Homo sapiens: one gene and its partner. The protein of the gene in region 1 interacts with the protein of each later gene in a pairwise test. Each region holds a gene or a part of one and is shown on either strand. Other genes may lie near its edges. The genes, in order: FEZ2 and PINK1.

What was found.
Region 2: the proteins of FEZ2 (region 1) and PINK1 interact in binary tests that used the Homo sapiens proteins (3 or more experiments, as listed by UniProt).

The regions. Positions count from the first base shown.
Region 1 is NC_000002.12:36,584,457-36,588,480, reverse strand, and holds part of FEZ2 (fasciculation and elongation protein zeta-2), read left to right. Parts: intron 1-4,024. UniProt on the Homo sapiens protein: Involved in axonal outgrowth and fasciculation.
Region 2 is NC_000001.11:20,646,958-20,650,457, forward strand, and holds part of PINK1 (serine/threonine-protein kinase PINK1, mitochondrial precursor), read left to right. Parts: intron 1-1,357; exon of another isoform or gene 1,358-1,547; coding exon 1,548-1,675; exon of another isoform or gene 1,676-2,037; coding exon 2,038-2,274; exon of another isoform or gene 2,275-3,476; coding exon 3,477-3,500. UniProt on the Homo sapiens protein: Serine/threonine-protein kinase which acts as a sensor of mitochondrial damage and protects against mitochondrial dysfunction during cellular stress.

The DNA of each region.
Region 1 (4,024 bases):
TCTTGTATTGTTCTTAGATTGCATCTTGGGAGGTTGCTCCCTTTTGCTGCCTTTTGAATGTTATTTTCAATGCCACGGTAATGATATGGCCAAGGCAGTGATTAGTAATGACGTAGAGTTTAATGCTAGTACTGACATTAAAAAGCCTTACCTGGCTGGGCGCGGTGGCTCATGCCTGTAATCCCAGCACTTTGGGAGGCTGAGGTGGATGGATCACCTAAGGTCAGGAGTTTGAGACCAGCCTTACCAACACGGTGAAACCCCGTCTCTACTAAAAATACAAAATTAGCCAGGCGTGGTGGCGCATGCCTGTAATCCCAGATACTTGGGAGGCTGAGGCAGGAGAATTGCTTGAACCTGGGAGGCAGAGGTTGCAGTGCGCCGAGATCACGCCACTGCACTCCAGCCTGGGTGACAGAGCGAGACTCTGTCTCAAAAAATAAAAAAAAAAACAGCCTTACCTGGAAAAACTCAGCAGATGAAAGTGAACACGTGATCATTCACCTATCATCTCTCTGTTGTGACATGACTATTCTGGTGATGAATAGAATTGAAATCAGAACTCTGTTTCTCAGGGAGGATTAGCACACACTGAGTTTCTGAAAAACAAATGGGCAATAAGGACTATGTAAGAAGTCATCACGTCATTCTATTACATGGTATATAATTAAGCATTTTTTTTTTAATCTGGCAAAGTGACTGTATTTACCATTGCCACCTGGTGCTCTGTTCGTGCCGTGACTAAGCTATGTAAAATTTACCCTTTGAAAGCATTCTTTAGATTATTTTACTTATAAAACCAAGTGTATAGAAATTTTTTTTGACAAAAGAAGAATGGTTTTTGCATTAAAAAGAGAAAAACATTCAGGAAAACTAGTTTGCTAGATTGCAGTTTTAAATTTTTCTTTGATTGAAGATTAAGATGGCACACTTCTAAATTTGATATGTCTTTTTTAGAGTAAGGCAACTGGTATCTTTCAAATTCTTACGTGGGCACATTTTTTCCATTTGATGTATCTTCAGTTTTATACAGGGAAACAGTACCACCAGGTCTGTATCTAACCCTGGCATTGGAAGGAGTGATGGGAATGCTTGGCAAAGAGAAGGCACATTTAATGCTGAAGGGAGGAGTGAATAATGATACCCATGACAGCCAGGGCTAGTTTGCAAAGCCTGAAAGATATTCCAGCTCTTAGCATATGCCATCTCTGTGGGGAATGGACTTGGCTCTCTCTCTGGAAAGATGATCTGGGATCATTTCTGTTGTCATGGAAATTTATTATAATAGTTTACTGTTATTACTCATGTGTTTTGGCCATAACCCTATTCTAAATCTGGTGCCATTCTTGAATATACTTATATGATAGAATGCTTATCATTCATTTCAGCTTAAGAACATCTTCTGTGCTGTATTTCTCCTTCCATGTGCATTTCTTTCAGGACAGGGACTTTTGTATGCATCTTTATACCTTTAAGAGTAGAAATAAGAAAAAGATAATGTCTTCCACAGAAGCAATTTGATTGATTGATAGATTGAGAGAGTGTCTCCCTCTGTTGCCCAGGCTGGAGTACAGTGGCGCCATCATAGCTTACTGCAGCCTCCAACTCCTGGGCTTAAGCGATCTTCCCGCTCCAGCTTCCTGAGTAGCTAGACTACACACGAGTACCGCCATGCCTGGCTAATTTTAAGAAAATATATTTCTGTAGAGACGAGGTCTTCCTGTGTTGCTCAGGGTGGTCTTGATGTCCTGACCTCAGGAGATCCTCCCACCTTGGCCTCCCAAAGTGTTGGGATTACAGGTGTGAGCCATGGCAACCTGGGCTTCCTTAGGAGTAATTTTTTTTTTTTTTTTTGAGACATGGTCTGGCTCTGTTGTCCAGGCTGGAGCGCAGTGGCACCATCTTGGCTCACTGCAACCTCCACCTCCTGGGCTCAAGTGATCCTCCCACCTCAGCCTCCTGAATAGCTGGGACTACAGGCATGTGCCATCATGCCTGGCTAATTTTTTGTAGCAATGGGGTTTCACCATGTTTCCCAGGCTGTTCTCAAACTCCTGAGCTCAAGCAATCCACCCGCCTCAGCCTCCCAAAGTGCTGGGATTACAGGCATGAGCCACTGTGCCCACCCCGGATTAATTTTAAAATTAAAACTTTTAGTATTTATAAGCCAGAAGGGGAAAAATAAAACAAAATCATGGTCCTCAAGTTGCAACATAGGAAGAGTGATTGGGAAGGGGGTGTGAAGTGTTCGAAGTGTAAGGATCGATGAAACTAATCGGTAGGTCTACTCCATGGTATCGACATGCCTTTGTGATCACAGTGTGCCACATTTTCATCTTCTACAGTATAGAAATCATACATCCCCTCTCATCAAGAGCCTAGTCTCTTGATCTTTCTCCTTCTTTAAAAAATTAAATTATTAAAGGAACAGCTGTCATAGTTTAAAAAGTAAATTAGAACTATAGGACTTAAATGAAAAGGCAGTCTCTGCTCCACTTGATTTCTCCTTACCAGAGGTGGCCACTTTAAATGATATCAGCTATTTCTTTTAGCAGATAACATGCTCATGCCATTTTACTTGATATTATTTTCTCAATTTTAGACTTTATTTATTTTCTACCCAGAGGGTGAAGGTTTAGCTCTCTTCTGTCCTTTGCCAATCCCTGACACTATACCCTCCCAAAAACTTCCCTTTCCCCATCTTCCCAATGTAATTACATAACATCTGGGGTTGAATTAATCTTCATCATTTATATTTACTATTTAAATGTGCACAGTTGACCCATTATGATATATTATGTTTACATTTTCTCTTTTTCTACTTAGGTTTTTTCTTAGGATACTACCTGCCTTTTTGTGGTTTATTTAGTTTATAATTAGCTGACCAGTTCAGCCTCAATAGAGCCGTAGAACTCATTTTAGTAAATGGACCGCACTAGGTAATCTATCTAGTCCTTCTGCTCTCCCTCCCCACCCACCTCTCCCTCTTCTCCATGCTCTCTGCAATAAAAATTCTAATCTGAATGTTACTCTCTAGTGTAGCTTTACAGTCATCATTCTGGGATTTTCACTTTACTATCATTACGAGAATTCTCTTTGTCACTTGTTATTAGACCACATATCTTTTTTCTTTTTCATTTTCCTCCTGGTAGCTTTTTGAGAAAGGGCACATGAGAGGTAAATTTTTTCAGAACTTGTATGTCTGAAAATGTCTTTATCCTAGCCCCTGCCTACTTGTTTTAGCTGGATATAGGATTCTAGGATGGAATTTCTCCAAACATGGAAGTTACATCGATTATTTTCTAGCATCTATTGTTGCTATTGAGAATTCACTTGACATTTTGATTCCTGATCCTTTTAATGTGATTTTTTTTTCCCTCCCTGGAAGCTTTTAGATTCTCCTTTTTTCCACACAGTGTTCTTAGTTCATGATGCTGTGTTGAAGGTCATGGCCAGGCCTTTGCTAGGCTGATGGTGCAGTAAGAAATAAAATGAGAAGGGCTGTCGTCACTGCGCAGGAGCCTGGAGTTGCATTATAGGGTTGTAGGTGGACCGTGCAGTGTTGATGGGGCCCTTCTCCCAGCCTAATGTTGGAAAGTCAGTGTGCCAGTGCTTCTTCCCTTGGCCCTTCTCACGTGCAGGTTTCTTACTCTGTAGGCTGTGTTCACCTGCAAACTTCAGATGCTCATGTTATGAAGAACTAGGGAAGCAGTAGGAACCTACATCCATTCCATTGTGTCCTCAGCTTTAGACATATATCCTCTGCATGGATAAATAATTTTGCCAGGTAAAATTTTATCATGTTAGTTCTACACTATGTAATAGAATGACATGGTGGCTTCTTACGTAATCCTTGTTGCCCATTTATTCTTTGGAAACTCAGTGTGTGCTAATCCTTCCTGAGGAATAGAGTTCTAGTTTCAGTTCCATTCAACACCTGAATAGTCATGTCATGACAGATAGGTAGATGATAGACAGATGTTCCCTTGTTCATTTTAATCTGCTGAGTTTTTTCAGGCAAAGT
Region 2 (3,500 bases), on another chromosome or scaffold:
CAACCTCTGCTTCCCAGGTTCAAGCAATTCTCGTGCCTCCGCCTCCTGAGTAGCTAGGATTACAGGCAGGTGCCACCACGCCTAGCTAATTTTTGATTTTTTTTTTTTTTTTTTTTTGAGACTGAGTCTCGCTCTGTCACCCAGGCTGGAGTGCAATGGCATGATCTCGGCTCACTGCAAGCTCTACCTCCCAGGTTCACACCATTCTCCTGCTTCAGCCTCCCGAGTAGCTGGGACTACAGGCGCCCACCACCACGCCCGGCTAATTTTTTTGTATTTTTAGTACAGACGGGGTTTCACCATGTTAGCCAGGATGGTCTCTATCTCCTGACTTCGTGATCCACCTGCTTCGGCCTCCCAAAGCGCTGGGATTATTATTTTTAGTGGAGATGGGGTTTCACTGTTGGCCAGGCTGGTCTCAAACTCCTGGCCTCAAGTGATCCACCCACCTCAGCCTCCAAAATGTTGGGATTACAGGTATGAGCCACCACGCCCAGCTGGGAGTTGGCTTTTTTTTTTTTTTTTTTTTTTGAGACGGAGTCTCACTCTGTCGCCCAGGCTGGAGTGCAGTGGCATGATCTTGGCTCACTGCAACCCCTGCCTATCGGGTTCAAGCAATTCTCCCGCCTCAGCCTCCTGAGTAGCTGGGATTACAGGCACACGCCACTACACCTGGCTGATTTTTGTATTTTTAGTAGAGACGGGGTTTCACCATGTTGGTCAGGCTGATCTGGAACTCCTGACTTCGTGATCCGCCTGCCTCGGCCTCCCAAAGTTCTGGGATTACAGGCGTGAGCCACTGCGCCCAGCCAGGAACTGGCTTTTTAAAGGAATTTTGTGTGGACCCTTTTACAAATAACCAATTCTTTTTTTATTTTTTCTGAGACAGAGTCTCGCTGTGTTGCTCAGGCTGAAGTGATTCTCCTGTCTCAGCCTCCTTCACCTCCCAGGTTCAAGTAATTCTCCTGTCTCAGCCTCCCGAGTAGCTGGGATACAGGCACACACCACCATGCCTGGCTAGTTTTTTTGTATTTTTAGTAGAGACAGGGGTTTCACCATGTTGGCCAGGCTGGTCTTGAACTCCTGACCTCAGGTGATCTACCCGCCTCGGCCTCCCAAAATGTTGGCATTACAGGCCACCACACCCGGCAATAACTGATTCTTAATGCACCTGGTTCTTAGGTTTGGATTTGGGGTTTCAAATTCAAATCAAAGTCTCCTGGGGTATAAGGGCCCTTGGAGATCATTTGAACCAAGCTCTAGCTCCTTTGGTCTTGGGGACAGCTCCAATTACTAGAACATGATTTAAATTGAGCCACACAGTCCTTTGCCTGGGGATTTTGCAGCCTGTACTTACTGGAGGCATTTCCGTGTTCGCACAGCAGGCCCTTCTGATCAGCTCTCAGGCCTTGCTGACCTCCTGGGCCAACACTGAGCCATTAGCCCCTGTCAGCTATGTCTTGCTGGTGGCTTTAGTAGGGACATAGGAGGGCCTCTCAGAGGGAAGGAGGGGAGGAGAAATGGTCACTTTGCTTGCTCCTTCCCAGACGGCTGCCCCTGGCTGGTGATCGCAGATTTTGGCTGCTGCCTGGCTGATGAGAGCATCGGCCTGCAGTTGCCCTTCAGCAGCTGGTACGTGGATCGGGGCGGAAACGGCTGTCTGATGGCCCCAGAGGTGAGTCCCGAGTGTGTCATGCGCCATCGGCAGCCCTTCCCCCACATGTCCACTGAATGCAGGAGACTCGATGCCTTGTGATAACCCAACACCTCCATCTTTTCTGACCCATAATTTGGCACAAGTTCCTTCCCTGCCACTTTGCTTTCCTCCGGCGTTCCCTCATGTTCCAGGAGAATGCAAGTCCTGTCACATAAACCAGGTGGTCTAAGCAGACCCCTTCTGGGTCTGAGCCACAGCTCACTCAAGCTCTGGGTTCCTTGGGACAGAGTTCAGATTAGCCCATGGATCAGGTGATGTGCAGGACATGAAAAGGTTAGATGGGCGGGCAGCGTGATGTCTCACCCACTGCTTCTGAGCAGGTGTCCACGGCCCGTCCTGGCCCCAGGGCAGTGATTGACTACAGCAAGGCTGATGCCTGGGCAGTGGGAGCCATCGCCTATGAAATCTTCGGGCTTGTCAATCCCTTCTACGGCCAGGGCAAGGCCCACCTTGAAAGCCGCAGCTACCAAGAGGCTCAGCTACCTGCACTGCCCGAGTCAGTGCCTCCAGACGTGAGACAGTTGGTGAGGGCACTGCTCCAGCGAGAGGCCAGCAAGGTGAGGCTGTCCCCGGCTTCGAGGGGACGGTGTGGGTAGAAACCTCTGTTCTCGTTCCAGAGTGAAGGTCAGGTTTGGGCCAGAGCCACAGTGACAGATCCTCTGTGTTAGGAAGGTAAAGGCTAGTTACAAGAGAACAAAAAACAGATTTTAATGTAGGTAGGAGTAGGAGCACTAGCCACCACAGCATAGTCAGAATCCTAGCAGTTCAACTCCTGTGGCTTTTTTAGTTGCTGAAAAAGTTGTTCAGAGGCCAGACACGGTGGCTTACACCTATAATCACAGCACTTTGGGAGGCTGAGGCGGGTGGATCACTTGGGACCAGGAGTTCCAGTCCAGCCTGGCCAACATGGTAAAACCCCGTCTGTACTAAAAATACAAAAATTAGCTGAGTGTCGTGGCACACGCCTGTAATTCCAGGTACTCGGGAGGCTGAAGCAGGAGAATCGTTTGAACCCTGGAGGCAGAGGTTGCAGTGAGCCAAGATCGCGCCACTGCACTCTGGCCTAGGTGACAGTGCAAGTCTTTGTCTCAAAAAAAAAAAAAAAAAAAAAAGGCTATTCAGAGAGAGAAAAGGAGGCATTTTTGAGAAATGTTTAATGGAGATGTAGCTCATGGAAGCAGCTGAGAACTGATCAGAGAGAGATGGAAAACATCTCCTGAGAGCAGATCTGGACATTGTGAAATTAATATAAAGGAATGCAAAGGCAGACCTATCCGAAGCCATAATTGGAGTGGCAGCTGGCTCAGGGGCAGGCTTAGTGCAAAGAGCTGAGCCATACCTGCACCCCAGCACTGTTCTGCCACTCCGTTAACTGCTCTCTGTACGTGGCCTGCTATCTTGGTGCGCAGTGAAGGTTAGAACAACAGCTGCAACCAGTTATGAAATGATAGAGGAGACTACTTACCTGGTTCAAGGGACCAGATAGCTGTGCACAAGAGGCACTAGGCTTTCCACCCAGGGGGAAAGGCTATTTCAACAATGCATGCTGCCCCATGCAGAGGTGTACACATGGAAAAGCTTGGAGCACGGGCAGGGGACAGGCAGTATTTGTCACCTGAGTGAAGGGCATCAGTAGGAGATAGGGTAGAGGAAGAATTGGGTTGGGACCAGAGAAGGGAAGACCCTCACTAACAAAGCAGGCTTTGGGTTGAGACTGTGTTAACAGATGTTCTAGCTACAGCTTCCCTTCCTGTTGCAGAGACCATCTGCCCGAGTAGCCGCA